2 separate regions of the Homo sapiens genome follow, and region 2 is linked to region 1. Evidence: fine-mapped expression QTL. A gene starts in region 1. The other region holds a variant in brackets. All regions are shown on one strand. Distances are from middle to middle. Region 1 holds the start of EMC6 (ER membrane protein complex subunit 6). Region 2 overlaps CAMKK1 (calcium/calmodulin dependent protein kinase kinase 1).

What was found. PIP is the estimated chance that this variant, and not a neighbour inherited with it, causes the effect.
Region 2: its variant is fine-mapped to the expression of EMC6 in CD4 T cells (BLUEPRINT, PIP 0.95).

What each region holds. Positions count from the first base shown.
Region 1 is chr17:3,664,247-3,672,564 of GRCh38, reverse strand. It overlaps EMC6 (ER membrane protein complex subunit 6), which reads right to left and starts at 3,753. Exons shown (of 2, transcript NM_031298.4): 1 at 3,666-3,753; 2 at 2,900-3,467. The coding sequence starts at 3,418. The coding sequence ends at 3,086. TAX1BP3 (Tax1 binding protein 3) reads left to right here and starts at 3,987. Exons shown (of 4, transcript NM_014604.4): 1 at 3,987-4,077; 2 at 7,767-7,886; 3 at 8,293-8,318. The coding sequence starts at 4,039. P2RX5-TAX1BP3 (P2RX5-TAX1BP3 readthrough (NMD candidate)) reads left to right here. Exons shown (of 15, transcript NR_037928.1): 12 at 72-3,507; 13 at 7,767-7,886; 14 at 8,293-8,318. It also overlaps the pseudogene RPL21P125. RefSeq lists enhancers at 2,537-3,067, 3,068-3,598, 4,131-4,661, 4,662-5,193 and a silencer at 3,700-4,039.
Region 2 is chr17:3,883,653-3,891,970 of GRCh38, reverse strand. It overlaps CAMKK1 (calcium/calmodulin dependent protein kinase kinase 1), which reads left to right. Exons shown (of 16, transcript NM_032294.3): 2 at 6,241-6,643; 3 at 7,544-7,591; 4 at 8,034-8,087. The coding sequence starts at 6,284. Among named protein-coding and RNA genes, the nearest start is that of CAMKK1, 5.2 kb to the left of the region's middle. RefSeq lists enhancers at 2,857-3,378, 3,379-3,898. The variant C/T (reference allele first, on the strand shown) is at 3,290.

The DNA of each region.
Region 1 (8,318 bases):
CCCAACAATAGGGAAATGGTTAAGTACATCAGCTCGCTTATCCCTCTTCCTTTTTTCTCCTCTCCCACCAGGCTGAGGACTCCCTCTGCTTCTCCCTTACACCAGGAATGAACCTTTCCTTCCCACTCAGAGGAGGTTCTGAGAGGACTGAGGTGGGCAAACCACTGAGGATCTTCAGTGGGGGCAGAGAAAGGGCTCACTGAGATGGGGGGCAACGCTATGGCCTCAGCTTCTCCTTGGCGTCGTGTGCATGTGTTCCTGAAGCCGAAACGGAATTTAACAGGTCTGGGTCCCAGATCCATTTCCATGACTGGCCATGGGCTATCTATGATCTGTCAAAAGGGGACTTGGATTCAAGCTCTCAGATCCCCTTCCAATCTAAAACAGATTCTTTTTTTAAAAAAAATCCAAATGTGATTACGTCACTTCAGACTAAAAACTTCCAAAGGCTTCCCCCATTTGCTCTGAGGATCAAGGCCAGGGCAAATGGGAGCTCACTGCAGCCTCAACCTCCTGGGCTCAAGTGATCTTGATCTTCCCATTCCAGCCTCCTGAGTAGCTGGACTACAGGCGCATGTCCCCACACCCATTACTGCCCTCCATGATCTGGTCTGGGTCTACCCTGTGGCCTCTTCTCTCACTCTCTAAATACAGTCACATTCCTTCCTGCCCAATGGCCTGGAAACATGCGCTTTCCTGAAGGTAACTCCTTCCCCACACTTGCCTATGTTATTCAACTTTTGGGTTTCAGATGTAATGTTATTTCCTCAGAGAAGACTTCCTTGACCTCCATATACCCCAACTTGGGCTAGGTCTGCTATGTCCTCTTCATAGTACTCACCATGATTTAAGTATTTCTGAAGTTAGGTGATGCTGGTTTCCCCAGTTAACCATAAATCCAATGAGCACCATCATTTTCATTACTGTAATTTCTTTTTTTTTTAGACAGGGTCTCGCTGTTGCCTAGGTTGGAGTGTAGTGGCAAAATCGTGGCTTACTGTGGCCTCAACCTCCCGGGCCCAGGTGATCCTGATCCTCCCACCTCAGCCTCCTGAGTAGCTGGGACTACAGGCACATGCCACCACATCTGGCTAATTAAATGTTTTTTTGTAGAGATGGGCATCTCACTATGTTGCCCAGGCTGGTCTTGATCTCCTGGGCTCAAGCCTTGGCCTCCCAAAGTGCTGAGATCACAGCAGGAGCCACTACACTCAGGCAATTACCGTCATTCTAATGCAATATTTATTCCTCAATTAAACAAATGCATTTTATTCTTTTTTTTTTGAGAGGGAGTTTCGCTCTTGTTGCCCAGGCCGGAGTGCAATGGCATGATCTCGGCTCACCGCAACCTCTGCCTCCCAGGTTCAAGAGATTCTCCTGCCTCAGCCTTCCTAGTAGCTGGGATTACAGGCCTGTGCCACCACACCCGGCTAATTTTGTATTTTTAGTAGAGATGGGGTTTCTCCATGTTGGTCAGGCTGGTCTCGAACTCCTGACCTCAGGTGATCTGCCCACCTCGGCCTCCCAAAGTGCTGGGATTACAGGCATGAGCCACCGTGCTCGGCCACAAATGCGTTTTATTCTAAAATAACCCTCCTGACAAGAAAGGATCATGGATTAACACATGGAGGTGTTTACACCCTAAACCTGCCCAAAGTTCAACTTCAATGTCCAAACAATTTTTGTGTTTTTTTTGAGATGGAATCTTGCTGTCACCCAGGCTGGAGTGCAGTGGTATGATCTTGGCTCACTGCAACCTCCACCTCCAGGGTTCAAGCGATTCTCCTACCTCAGCCACCCAAGTAGCTGGGATTACAGGTGCCCACCACCACGCCTGGCTAATTTTTGCATCTTATTTTTAGTAGAGATGGGGTTTCGCCATGTTGGCCAGGCTTGTCTCAAACTCCTGACCTCAGGTGATCTGCCTGCCGTCGGACTCCCAAAGTGCTAGGATTACAGGCGTGAGCCACTGTGCCCAGCCTAAATGTCCAAACAATGTTTAATCTTCCCTAGACATATTCTAAAAAATACAGCTTGACTTTATTTTTTCTTATGGAAAGGACTGTCACTAAATGAAATGGAACTAAAATGACACCATATATACCTGAAAGTAGTGGTTAGTGGGAGGGAACGCTGGCCTGTGAAAGGTACACCCAGCAAACATATCAAGAGCAAATTAAGAGACCTGCATTTGAATCCTGGCTCTGTCTCTTCCTAGCTGTATCTCCTCTGGGAGAAGTATTTAACCTCTCTGAGCCTCAGGTTCCTTACGAGGGAGCTAACAATAACATCTACCCTGTAAGGTTATTGCTAAAATTAAATGAGAGGATCGGTGTAGAGTAGAAGTCACAATGCCAGCATATAGGGAACTCTTTTTTTTTTTTTTTTCCCTGAGAGACAGACGGAGTCTTGCTCCATCACCCAGGCTGGAATGCAGTGGCACGATCTCGGCTCGCTGCAACCTCTGCCTCCAGGGTTCAAGCGATTCTCTTTCCTCAGCCTCCCGAGTACCTGGCATTGCAGGCGCGCGCCACCACACCCGGCTAATATTTATATTTTTAGTAGAGACGGAGTTTTGCCATGTTGGCCAGGTTGGTCTTGAACTCCTGACCTCAGGTGATCCGCCCACCTCGGCCTCCCAAAGTGCTGGGATTACAGACATGAGCCACCGTGCCCGGCCCAGGGAGCTCTTAATACATATTAACTGTTACTGCTTCTTAGGATGTTAATAAGTTCTTTCCTTATGTAGGCCCTTAGGGCCCGTTTCTGAATGGCCTATGTGTAAATACAAGGACTTAACACAAGGCTATGGCCCATTCCTTGCTCTCCAGGAGTCAAATCTCGGCGATTTTGCATCAGTGGCAGCCTAAGCGTTACAGCAGGAAAGAACTCCACAAAGTGTCTCACGCTTCATTTAATCTGAAGAATATTACAGGCTCTCCGTCTTCAGATATAAATTATTTATAACGTTACAGAACAAGCAGCGAATTCAACCACTTAAGAACTAAGGAAGTCTACATGGTGTTAATTGCTGGCCACAGTCCTCCCGATCTGGTTTTTTAAAAAAGTCCCCCGGGCCCCCATTTCAGTAGACGTGCACCATGCCGTAGAGGAACGTCCAGAACAGGACGTAGGTGAAGAGGCCCCCGATGAGGCCTCCTGTAAAGAGAGGTCTCCGTGATTTGAAATATTTGTTCCACCTCCTTCCCGCCTTGAGAATGAGGAGCAGGGAGAGCAGGACGGAGGCGAGCAGGTAGAAGATGAAGCCGTAGAGGCCGGTGAGGCCGAGGATGCCGGCCGTGGCCCCCGACAGCGCTGACACCGAGGTCCGGCAATAATCCAGGACGGCGGCGTTGCCCCGCACGGCCGCCTCGCTGATGAACGGCGGCCCTTCCCGCTTGGCCACCACCGCGGCCATCGCACCAGCCCGGGCTCGGCCTCTCGCTTTCTCGCGGAACAACGCGGAGCTGCGGAGAAAACCAAGTTACAAGTGGCGCCCGGAGCTCGGTGAGTTGGGTTCACGCCGCCCCCTCCCCCTGGAGCTTCCGAGACCTGGCACCAGTCCTGGGCCTCGGATCTTCCAAAGACGCCGAGGAGATTGAGGGTCCGGGCCGGCCGGGAGGTGGTGGCGCGTCTGCGTTCCCCGGCCACGGTGGCCCAGTTACCTGGAACACGGCGCCGGACACACTACTTAGCGTTCCCTCAGACGGGCAGTGGAAGAAATGCCCGCGGCGCCATCTTGCTCGGAAGACTGCCGGGAGGTCTCGGGCTGCGCACGCGCCCAGATCCCGCCCCGCCCTCCGCGCCTGCGCCGTGGGCGCCCCGGACACGCTCCGCCCTCTGCCCGCTTTTCTGCGCACGCGCAGGGACTTCCGAAAGCGGAGTGGCGCTCCGGCCAGTGATTGGCTGGAGGTTTGTTAACTATTCATGAGGGGGCGGGCCGAGCGGGGCGGCCTTTGTTAAGCAGCGAGGGCGCGACCGCGGGTACTCTGCTGCCGGCTTCTCGGAGCGGCGCTGGGCGACCAGAGCAGGGTCGAGATGTCCTACATCCCGGGCCAGCCGGTCACCGCCGTGGTGGTGAGTGCGCTTGCGCGGGCTCCTCCTCGTCTTGGCCTGACCCCACCTCGCAGAGCGGGAAACGGACACCCCAAGCAGGTTGACAGAGCATCGAACCCGGGGCTCCTGCGAACCGGCGGCAAGGGCTCGGGTCCCCGCTTTGCCGGAGCGGGCCGCAGTTCCCCCAGCCACGAAACAGGGATGGCCGGGACCCGAGAGCCTCCCGAGACCCTGGACAGAGCCCAGACTGCGTGCGCAGGGCGGGGAGGGCCACGGGGAAAGGCCTGGCTGCAGGAGCCTGGAAAAGCGCCCCCTTCCCGGGCCTCCGTGTCCCCAGACGGGGAGCTGCTGGGGGCGGGCGCCGATCCCGACGTCCATGAGTCGCAGCCTCTGGAATGAGGAAATGCTTCCTCCGCTGCAGCCTGCGCCGCCGCCCGGAGGGAGATCTGGGGGTGGGGCTCTCCCGAGCCTGCCGTGGCAGCCCCTGCCCCCTTCCTGTCCAGCCTTGCTCCTCCAACCCACTCGCCGCCTGGTCCAGGGTGGACGCTCGTATAGCTGCGATGAGCGTTTCCTCTTCGAACTTTTCCTGGGTCTCCAGCCCTTAAGGCAAAAAAGTCCAGGCCTCCCTCCTGGCACTTGAGTCCTGAGTAGACCCTCCGGGGGCTAGCCTAGGCCCCTGGCCGCCCTCTGGCTTGTTTTAGGTGCTGGGTGCTATTAGACTAGGCAGAGGGAGGAAGGAAGGCTGGGACGTTAGACTCAGACGCCGGTGTCACAGAGGGACACAACCCTATGACAGAGGTGGGGAGTCCCAGAGAGAAGTGCTCAGCCAGAAAAGACCACCTCAGGAAAGACTCAGGTCTCCTGCCTACCTCCCGACAGCGTTCAGAGAATGAGAAGAAATGCCTGCCCGGTGGGCAGTAGGTCAAGCGAAAGTCCCCGCCCTGGAGCCATAGGGACTGGGTGTGTTATCTCAGTTGGGTGTGCTGGAGAAGCTCCAGCAATCAGGTGGGTGGAGGCAGAGAAGCCACTGATAAAGGCGACAAGTGAGGCTGAGCTTAGAGCACTGGCTCAGGCCTGGGCCAGGAGGAAACATTGCTGGACCAGCTGACAGCTGTCCTAAGCTTCACCCTCCCTGCACCAGCTTGACTTTTTTTTTTTTTTTTTTTTTGAGACAGTCTTGCTCTGTCGCCCAGGCTGGAGTACAGTGGCGCGATCTCGGTTCATTGCAACCTCCGCCTCCTGGGTTCAAGCGATTCTCCTGCCTCAGCCTCCCGAGTAGCTGGGATTACAGGCATGCACCAGCATGCCCAGCTAATTTTTGTATTTTTAGTAGAACGGGGTTTCACCATGTTGGCCAGGCTTGTCTTGAACTCCTGACCTCTGGTGATCCACCTGCCTCAGCCTCCCAAAGTGCTGGGATTACAGGCGTGAGGCACCACACCCGGCCCAGCCTGGCTTTTTTAGATCCCTACCTGCCCCAGAGAGAAGGCACCAGGTTTGCTCTTTAGGTAGAAGGGGGGCAGGGACAGGTGAGGAGCTACAGCAAGCCACCTTCTGCGTGACCTCACCCAGCAAATCAGTGACAGCCCTGTCTCCCAACCCAAGGGCCTGTAATCTTCTGACCGTGCCGGCAGAGCAGGCCTGGAGGAGCTCAGTTTGGGGCATGAGGACCCAGGCACAGTAGGCCTCATGCTTCCTGCCCCCCTCCCTCACGCCATAACTGGTCCCAGGGCCTTCCCCAAAACTGCAGGCCCATGCCCCCTAATTCTGGTAACACCAGGAACGTGCCTGGACATGGTGTGTATGGTCTGGCCTCTCCCTCGAGTCTTGGATTGGGGATGGGTTTGGGCAGGCTCACTCCCCAGTCCCCACCCTCTCCCATGTAGAATCCTGAGAATATTAAAGACATTTAGGCCATTCTTCTGAACCCTGGCTCCATAGATCCATCTGCCTTCTGGACACCTGCCCCGCAGCTCCTGGCACTCCAACCTAACCTGCTCCTCCTCCTCCTGGGTCCCCATCTGAATAATGTGTGTTCAGCCAGGCACGGTGGCTGGGTGCTCCTCTTGACTCCTCTCCTCCATGAGTGGTCCCTAAGTCTGTAGATCTCCATTTTCAGGTAGCTCCATGTCCCCCGGCCTCTGCACCTTGCTTTTGTGAGATGTCCGTTCCTCTACTGATTACCTGAGTGGTCATTCTAGCAGCAAACCTGACCATGCCCTACCCTACTCCGTTCCTGAGAACTCCAGTGGGTTCAGGATCAAGGTCAGGCTACCCATCACCCCCTCAAAGCCTGGTGCAAATAATCCTCCCTTTGGGAAACTTCTTTAGGTCTAGTCTAGATTGTGGTCTTCTGCTTTTTTCTTTTCTCCTTCCTGTTAAAACTTGACTTTGGGAGTGATCTGGTCTGGCTCCCAGCATCTGCTGACTGGACGGCGCTTGCCAAGGGCTTTGAAAAGAACCTGGCACAGTTGGGGACCATAGCCCCAGAGCATGGTGGGAACACCCCAGAGCATGGTGGGAATGCCCCAGAACACTCGTTTCTGCACAAGAGCAGGGTCTGGGGCTTAGGGAGACACCCCTGCTCCCCTTCCAGGACGGGATCTGGCCCCAGCCTTACACTTTCAGCCTCATCTCGCCTCCCAGTTCTGTGTCCTGCACTGGACACTCCAGTCTCACGAACACGTATCCACGGCACCCTGTGCGCTGGTCCCCGTGGCCGGCAAGCCCTTCCTCTCCTTTCTTTTTTTTTTTTTTTTTTTTTTTGGAGCCCAGAGATCCTTTATTTTTTTTTGTTTAACACCTATTATGCCATGAATTCATAGGGAATAGGTTCCAGCAGCTCAGGCGCCTTCCCGTTGGTTCTCACAAAGTGTGCTTCCCTGGGTGGAGCAGGCTGGTGCTTTAGTTGAACCCAGGTACCTTTCTCTTTGGCTTCTTTCTTTTTCTGATCATTTTCCTTCACGCGTTCCAGGAAGCTATCTCGGCTCTTAGAGTGCTTTATGTGCTCAATACGCACATTAATTCTCTTGGCAAGAATCTTGCCCTTAACTTGTTTGTTTACAACAATGCCAACAGCATGCTGGGGAACATTGTAGACTCTTCCAGTTTTGCCATGGTAACCCTTGTGGGGCATTCCTTTTTGAACAGTACCCATTCCCTTGATGTCTACAGTATCACCTTTCTTATAGATTCGCATATATGTGGCCAAAGGAACATCTCCATGTTTTCTAAAAGGCCTAGAGAACATATATCCGGTGCCTCTCCTCTTTCCCTTTGTGTTCGTCATTTTGGCGAATTACTGGAAGATGGCGGTTCCGGCCGAAAGGAAACCCCTTCCTCTCCTTTCTATGCAAGTTTGATCTCTGCTTTTCCAGAGCACCTCCTGTGAGACGGGCTTCCCACCTACAGAAGCCACAGCACCTGGACTCTTGGGCCAGCAGGGGCTTCCACCACATGTTGACCAAGACTAGTGCCTAAGACTAACAGGGGAAGTGGGGACAGGTTGAGGACACAGGGCTGTGTGGGTGGATCAATGTGGCCAAGTTCTGAGTGCCAGCTCCTCAGCCTCCCAGGCTGGTGAGCAGCTGGATTCCTGCAGGGGCCTGGGACCCAGCCCCTTGTCATGGCTCTGAGGCTGCTGCTGGGAACACCCACCAGCCTAATTCTCCAACCACCCACTTCTCTCAACTGGCTTTTTTCTTTGCCAGCAAAGAGTTGAAATTCACAAGCTGCGTCAAGGTGAGAACTTAATCCTGGGTTTCAGCATTGGAGGTGGAATCGACCAGGATCCTTCCCAGAATCCCTTCTCTGAAGACAAGACGGACAAGGTGAGGGGGTCTGGGGTCCTGGGACCGCTCCATGGGGCACAGGGGCCTGAGATGGTGGGTCTCTGCTTCCTGGGCCTGCATGGAAGGAACAGACTTCATCTCTCAAACCATGCTCTCTAAGAAGGCATCGGAAGTGACCTAGTGAGAATAAGGACGGGTGGGGTGAGGAAGGGCTGCTCAGACAGAGCCCAGGAGGAGCAGGAGGCGGCCATCAGCAGGGCCGGTGCATGGTGGTGCAGCAACTCTGCCCCGGCTCTCTCAGAACAGTCCTCACTGACCATATGTGCTGGGAGAGGCTGGGTGCAGGGACAGAGGGACGGCTGAGAATGTGCCATGCTGGCTTCCGCTGTGTGATAAGGGGCCAGTCCAGTGACCACAGGGCTTGACTTGGGCTGCCCCTTTCCAGGGTATTTATGTCACACGGGTGTCTGA
Region 2 (8,318 bases), 220 kb before region 1:
CCTTCGCCTCTTCCTCGGTCTCCCACCGTCAGTCCTCACAGCAGCCATGGGAGTCGTTTTAAACCTCACCTAACCGAGGCACTCCCCTGCTCACAACCTCCCCCTGGCTTTGGGGGCCTCCTGGGCTCTGTCCACCAAGCTCTCCCCACCCCCAAACCAAGCCCGGAGTCCCAGCCAGGAAATGACTCTCCTATATGCACAGTGCAAACTTCCATCCTCGCCTCATCCTGAAATCCTGCTCAGTGCTCAGAAGAGAGCTCAGGTGCCACCTCCTCTAGGAAGCCATCCCTGAGGCCAGCACAATGAGTGAGGGGGCTTTCTCTCCAGATGTAACTCCTCTTGCTATCAGGTGCCTCTTATGTGGGGAAGACTCCACTCCAGCCACGTCAGCCTCCCTGCTGTTCTTCATACTGAGCAAGCACTGTCCCCTCATGGCGTTTGCACCTGCTGGTCCCTGCACCTGAAATGCTCTTCCCCAGATAACTACACTGCCTACTGCCCCTTCCTTCCTTCAGGTGTCTGCTCCAGTCCTGCTCCCAAAAGGCCTTCCTCAACTACACTGTATCAGCAGCATCTCCCAGCCCCTTTCTCTTGATCCTTCTTACTCGGCTGTATTTTTCTTCCTATATGTACCACTTGACATATCATATCTGAATCACTGGCTTTCTTGTTTGTTGCTTCTTGCCCCCACGAGAAATTAAACTGTATGAGAGCAGAGACTTGGTCTTTTTGGTTCACTGCTGTATCTCCCCACACAGGCTTGCACAGAGTCTGGCAGACAGCAGGTGCTCCGTGACTATTTGTGCTTGCATCCCAGGCGTCCATGTCCCTGGCTGCTCCCTAGCCTGTGACCCCCCCCCCAACCTTGCCCCCAGTCTGAGGCCACTTCTGCTCCTCTATCCATGACATTCCGAGTTCCTGGAAGGCCAGGTCTGGGAGAACTATAACCACATTTGCATGTTGGAAATCCCTCCAGCAGCTGGTGTGGAGGATGGGGTAGGGTGGGGTGGAGGTGTTAGCCTGGAGTCAGGGAAGACCCACATAGTGGGAAACGAAGCAGTGGGTAGAATCTGGACTTCTAAGGGGTTTGACTTGGTGAGCTCACCCAGCAGGTAGTGGGGAGATCAAGGAGGGCTCAGAAGAGGCGATGTCTGAGCTGTCCTCCAGGCAGCAGAGGAGAGGGAGGTGTGTTCCTGGCAGAAGGCACAGCTTGTACTGAGGCCTGGCAGCAGAACAGAGTATGCAATTTGGGAAGCTGTGGTGTGGCTGCAGTGGAGAGTAAGTGTGGGGTTGTGGGGAGCAAGGGTGGGCAACAGGGAAAGGACGAGTGACAAGGAGGGCTCCCGGATTGCTGACCTGGGTCAGGAAAGAATGGGGAGGGTGTGGTACCCGTCTCGCAATGGAGACAGAGGAGGACGAGCAGGTTTGGGGAAGATGCTGAGTTGAATCTGGGGCCTGTTGGATCTGAGCTGCTCGGGAACATGGACGGGGAGGTGGCAGCTAGCTGGAAAGAGTGGGGCTGGAGGCACAGACCTGGTGTGGAGGATGAGGAGGGGCAGAGGATGAGGCCTGGAGACCATCAGCCTCCGTGGGTGGGCCAGGACGATGCGCTGGGGGTAGCTGTGCTGAGTCAGGCAACAGCCCGTATTGGTGCTTGGGGGCTCCCCAGGGATGGTGGGAGCGGGCGTCCTCACAGCAGGAGTCGTCAAGCATGACTTGGCACCAGACGCCTGGGCCTCCCTCAAGGGGACTGAGTCATCCCGGGTGGGGGCGGGAGCTGCGGAGGGCACCCGTTGCCAGGGCCATCCAGATACTCGCCAGGATCATAAACACAGCTCCAGTGAGGCGGCCCAGGCATGGGAGGACCACCTTCTGTGTCTGGCCTGGGTGGCCGCCACCTCTGCGGCTTTCCCTTCTGTTCGGTCCTCTGCTGGTCACGGCTGTCCATCCCCTCGCCTGGATGTAGCTGGTCCCCTGCCTCGGCTTGGCACTGGGGTTCACAGCGGCCTTCCAGCGCTCAGAATGAGGCCTGACCAGGGCCTGACCAGCTCCCAGGTGGAGCTACTTGAACCCGCGTGGATGGCAGCAGGGTCTGCCTGCTCTGGGGCTCCTTTGAGGGATGCAGCTGGATGGGGCATGTCCTGTGGAAGAAGCCAGGCCAAGTGGGCGTCTGGAGCCGGGGGCCCACATTCCTTGGGAGTGGCCAGACGCTTGGGGGGTGGGGCACAGCCTGGGAGGAAAAACCTGGGTGGGGGATATGTGCCAGGCCATCTTGGAGCTGGGGGCAGAGGTGGGGTTGGACCTTGCACATCAAGGCTCTCTTGGACGCTTCTAGACACAGCCACATCCCAGCCCCACAGTGCTGTGGCACAAACTACTCCTGTGTCCACACCTCATTCTGTTCCTTCCATCGCCCTGGGAGTTGGCAGGACAGTGGCCTTCTGCTTGATGCACGTGTTAGGAAACAGAGGCTCCAAGAGGCTCGATGACTTGTCCGAGGCAGCAGATCCCCAGTCTGGGGGGACAGGATTGCAGTAGTTTTTCCCAATGAGGGAGGGCTTGAGTCTGGCTGTTCACGGCCGCAGGACTAAGCCAGTGCCCATGCCCACAGGAATCCTTCGCTGTACCATGGGCCTGGTTCCCGGCCTGTCTGTCCATCTTTCTGTTTGCCCACATGGCCCTAGTTATCCACCGAATTAAGTTTCTACAGAGTATCTACTAAGGCCTGAGCTTGGGAAGGGCCTTGAGACACCCCCTGTGTGAGCCTCCAGATGGGCCTGGGTTTCCGCCCGGGGCACAGAATCCAGCCCAGCAGGCAGTGCCAGGCTGGTGGGACCAGTGACTATGGGGAAAAGTCCAGATATGAGCTCTGGGATCAGGCTCCCAGGGCCCCCAGGGGCGCGGACCACCCCCCTACCCTGGGCATAGGTACACGGAGACCTGCAGGCACACAGGCGCATAAACACACCTGCGCACACACACATCACACCGAGGTTTTCATCTCCATGCAGTGCGCTCCTGTGTGGGGACCCACAACACACACACACACACACACACGCCACCACCCTGGTCCACAGCCTGCGCACACATATTCCCTCCTGTGGGGACACACGCCCTCACACACGCGGCCGGGGCGCCAGGCCCTGTCTCCCGGACACGCGGCAGGAACCTCGGGCCTCCCCGGCCGGCCGCCTCCCTCGCAGACGCGCTTAGTCACCTGAATTTGATCCAGGCGGGAGGGAGGGATGGGGAGCCTGACGTCAGCCCTCGCGGCCGCCTTCCGCCCGCC[C/T]GCGCATCCATCTGGGCCTCAGCGTGTCCCGAGCAATCACAACAGCAGCCGCACAACAACAACTCACTTTTACGGCCTCCTTAGTGGCAGGCACTGTTCTGAGCGCCTTACGGGCGTTCCCTCCTCAGCATCTCACCACGTGCGGTGAGGTGAGGCCCGCTAGAACCCCATCTTGCGGGCGAGGAAAACCCAAGGCACAGAGGCGAAGCCACCTGCTCACGGGCTCCCAGCCAGGAAAGGGTGCAGCCTGGCTGCCTGGCTTCAGAGCCTGGGCGCCAAACCGGGTAACAGGGCTCAGGCTGGAACAGGAAACCTTCTGCCCCGACTTGCTGGGTGACCCCGGGCCCATCCCCACCCGCTGGGCCTCCCTCTACCTATCTAAGAAAAGCAGGGAAAGGTGTTCAAGGGTAAAGGAGGATGGCCTCTTGCTGGAATGGCAACCTCAAGGAAATACGCAAATTTTATGGGCCCGGGCAGCCTGTGGCTTCTGCCTGTGGCGGCTCTGAGTCCCGTAGTCCCTGCCTAGGGCCAAAAAGCAGGAGCTCCTGACTCTGGAGTTCATTCTGTTATATGTGCTGGGGCCTGAGGCTTGCTGGGGTTGCCTCTCTGAGGCTGCTTTCTCATCTGTCTAATGGGGACAGGGCTGTAACGATCACTATGGCAACCACTCATTTATTCAACAAATATTTATCGAGTTCCTATCACATGCCAGGCACTGATGATCTTTTGGAGACAAGGCAGATGAGCGTCCTAATCTCATGAAACTTACATTCGGGAGGGAAAAACAAGGCATGCGGAGTGAGGGGAAGGGGCGGAGGGGTGGGCCACCTGCTGGGAGGAGCCTGGCGGGTCCTGGAGGGTGTTCCCAGCTTTGGCTTCCTCCTTCCTATGCTGTCTGGTTTCCAAGCTCTCCCCGAAGCTCCAGCCCCACTCACTGTCCCTCTCACCTCCTCCAGGGAGGCCTCCCTATGCCACAGCCTCTCACCTCCTCTGGGGAGGCCTCCTTATGCCACAGCCCCACTCTCTGTCCTCTCTCACCTCCTCCAGGGAGGCCTCCCTGTGCCACAGCCCCACTCCCTGTCCCCTCTCACCTCCTCCAGGGAGGCCTCCTTGTGCCACAGCCGCACTCACTGTCTCCTGCCCTCTCTTCCAGGGAGGCCTCCCTGATACTCTAGCCTCACTCAGCCTCCTCACCTCCTTCACCTCCTCCAGGGAGGCCTCCTTGATGTTCCAGCCTCATTAACTCCCTCTCACTCCTCTGGGTCCAGCTTCCATGACTTTTCCTGTTCCTAGTGTGGAGCCTCCTCTCTTCCTTTCTCCATGTCAGCACCAGCCCCACCGCCTCCAGGCTTCTACTCATTCAACACACTGCGTACCGGGCACAGGGGGTCTGGACCTCACCCTTACCCTCAGTCTACCTCCAAACCCTGCTGTGAGCCTGGAAAATATGGGAAGGCAGGGAATCCACAGGACAAGTCGGGAGACTGGGGCTCAGAGTCGGGAAGGAGCTGGTCTAGGGCCCCTGGTGGGTCAGCAGGCAGGACTGGAACCCAGTCCTGGCTCCTCAGTGGCCGGTGGACTCCAGCCAGCCCTGCCTCGCTGACATCTGTCAAAGCAAGGGGATGGGGAACGAGCGGTAGAGCAGGCGCTTCACCATGCGTACTCTGGGTCTCCCTGAGACCCATGTTCTCAGTTGCTGTGTGGGTTCGGAGGAAGTTACCAGCAGACAGGAAGGATGGAGGGTCAGGAGTTCACTCACTTCCTTCTCCTGAGAACATGCAGAGTCCAGCGCAAGCAGGGGGAAGGGCATCAGGTTGGGCATGGCCAGCGCTCTACAAGCCTGGGACAGAGATGGGGGTCTCAGGCTGAGTGTCAGGGTTCAGTCCGGGGTCAGGATGTAGCCCAGGGTCATGGCTGAAGGTGAGGGCTGGGGGTCACCTCCCTGATGTTTCAGCCGCCACACAGTGAGTTTGAGAACATGAGTCTCAGGGGATGTCATGCCCCTGTTTCACCCCTCATTCCCCTCATTCTCATCCCCTTGCTTTTTTTTGAAACCGAGTCTTGCTCCGTCACCCAGGCTGGAGTGTAGTGGCGTGATCTTGGCTCACTGCAACCTCCACCTCCCAAGTTCACACGATTCTCCTGCCTCAGCCTCCCGAGTAGATGGGATTTCAGGTGCACGCCACCATGCCTGGCTAATTTTTGTATTTTTAATAGAGACAGAGTTTTGCCATGTTAGCCAGGCTAGTCTCGAACTTCTGACCTCAGGTGATCCACCTGCCTCGGCCTCCCAAAGTGCTGGGATTACAAGTGTGAGCCACCATGTGGGGCCCATCCCCTTGTTTTGACAGACGTCAATGAGGCAGGGCTGGCTGGAGTCGGGAGCCCCAGGGAAGTCTTCCTGGAAGCAGTGAGAGGGATGGGGGTAGGAGGCTGAAACATCAAGGAGGGCTCCCTGGAGGAGGCGGGTGGGTCTGAAGCATCAGCAAGGCTTCTGAGTTACTAGTGTCTAGCTCAGCTTCCAGGAGGCAGTGTCGGAGTGCTCTGCTGTCAAGGGTTGGGACTCATGACTCACAGGGCTGCATGCTGTGCTGGGGCTGAGCTGACCCTGGGCTCTGCCCCTTCCAGTGCTGCTGGGCCTCCAGGCTTCTGCCCTGTCTGTCCTGATTCCAGAATATCAGATTCTCTCTGCTTCCCTGTGAAGCCAGCAGGCAGAAGTGACTGCCTCTGTTACCGGCAGGGATACTGAGGCCTAGAGGGCTGGCATGCGGCAGAACCGATGTGAATTCATTCAGGTCATAGGGACAGACTTGAGTTTGGGTGTTGGCAATCCCGGTAGAGGGAACAGCCAGGGCAAAGGCATGGAGGTGGGACCCACAGCGCTGTGGCTACCTTACCTGGTAGCCAGCCTGACACCCAGGAGTGAAGCCTTCTCTGCCTTCTTTTCTCAGGTTCCCAACAAGGCTACGCAGAAGAACCCCCTTGACTGAAGCAATGGAGGGGGGTCCAGCTGTCTGCTGCCAGGATCCTCGGGCAGAGCTGGTAGAACGGGTGGCAGCCATCGATGTGACTCACTTGGAGGAGGCAGATGGTGGCCCAGAGCCTACTAGAAACGGTGTGGACCCCCCACCACGGGCCAGAGCTGCCTCTGTGATCCCTGGCAGTACTTCAAGACTGCTCCCAGCCCGGCCTAGCCTCTCAGCCAGGAAGCTTTCCCTACAGGAGCGGCCAGCAGGAAGCTATCTGGAGGCGCAGGCTGGGCCTTATGCCACGGGGCCTGCCAGCCACATCTCCCCCCGGGCCTGGCGGAGGCCCACCATCGAGTCCCACCACGTGGCCATCTCAGATGCAGAGGTTGGTGGGGCAGAACGAGGGGTTGTTCATGAGCCCCTCAGTAGTCTGCAATGAAGACTCTTTCCTGCCCCTGTCTGTGCCACACGGCTATCTAGCTTTGGTTTGCATACCCTCAGAGCTGGGGAGATCACTACCTAACAATATAGCTTCTTCCCAACCAGGGGAGCTCCAGCTGAGCCAAAGGCTGCCTTCCCTAAGTCCTGCTATTCCCACTCCCAGCCCAGGCCTAGGAAATAGGTCTCTCCCTGGTCCCCTATGTAGTCTTCTTAGAGATGTGAAGATAGATGCTATGTCCCCCTTCCCCCCTAACTCTTCTCCAGCTTGCACCCCTCGCCTCTAATTCTGCCTCTTAGAGTCTGCTGTGACTCAGAAGCGGCCGGCCTGCCTCCAGCCTCTGGGCTTCTGCTGGAGTTCTTGCCATTTAGGTCTGAAAGTGAACTCAGGTTCCAAGCAGTCTACAGATGTCAGGGGCTGAGCTTTCTGTGCCTGAACCCAGGCTCTCAGCCTCTGTGCCCAGGGCTCCTCATCTTGTCCTTGGAGTCTAGACCTTCTCATTCAGCTGCTTCTGGAAATAGTTGCTCATGGGTTTCTCATGGATTAGGGTCTTCCAGACTCCAGAATCCAGACAGGAATTAGCGTTTTCCCTTCACCACTGCTTCTGGGGAACAAGGCACAGCCATGGCGTCACCATCCATGTTTTCAAACATGAGCCACGTCTTCTCGTCACATACGGGGGCGATGGCACCACCAACTTCCCCATCCAAACTCAAAAGCTTGGTGAGACCTGGGGGTCCGGGAATGAGGAGCTTATGGCCAGAATTGGACCCTGAACGGGCTCTGAGGTAGGAGCAGTGCTGCCTCCGGACCCAGCTCCACCTGGTGCTCGCTCTTCCCCCACAGGACTGCGTGCAGCTGAACCAGTACAAGCTGCAGAGTGAGATTGGCAAGGTAGGAGTGGGCAGGCCGAGAGCAGTGGGGGCTTCGGGATTCTCTGTTTGGCGCTGCTCCTTCTCTCGTGTGGGAGGGAACGGGAGGCAGAGCCAGGCAAGTCCTAGCCTGGAGGTGAGGACAGTTTCGTGCCCTGTGGGAAGTACCCAGGTACCCAGGGGGAGGGTGGAAGATGGCTCCTGATTCCCGACTCTCTGAGTTCTTGACAGTGGACAAGGAGGGACTGAGGGAGGCATGGAGCCATGTGGAGCCAAGCAGGGGCAGTTACCAGGGCGCAGGAGTCCCCTCCCCATCTGCTACAATATTTGCCCGTGAGCCAGCTGGTGGTGGGTAGTGCAGATGGGGTGCAGGAGAGACCAGAGCTGCTCGGCTCCCCACCTCCTGAGCTGGTCCTGGGAGGGGTTGCCCTGTCCAGGTGGGGCTGACTGATGCCTATCTGCAGGGTGCCTACGGTGTGGTGAGGCTGGCCTACAACGAAAGTGAAGACAGACACTATGTGAGTCTGGGGATACGAGGGAGGTGTTGCCCAAGCCAGGCCCTGGAAGCCTGAGGGGTGGGGCAGGAGTTGTGCTTAGGAGATAGAGGACAGGGCTGCCTGAGAGTGAGCTCCCTGTCCCTAGGGGTATGCAAAGGAATGAGCTTCCTAACCCTGGGGATATGCAAGCAGAGACTGGATTCCTCTGAGGGGAAAGCTCCAGAAAGGCTTGCTGGGGGAATAAGGGGAAGG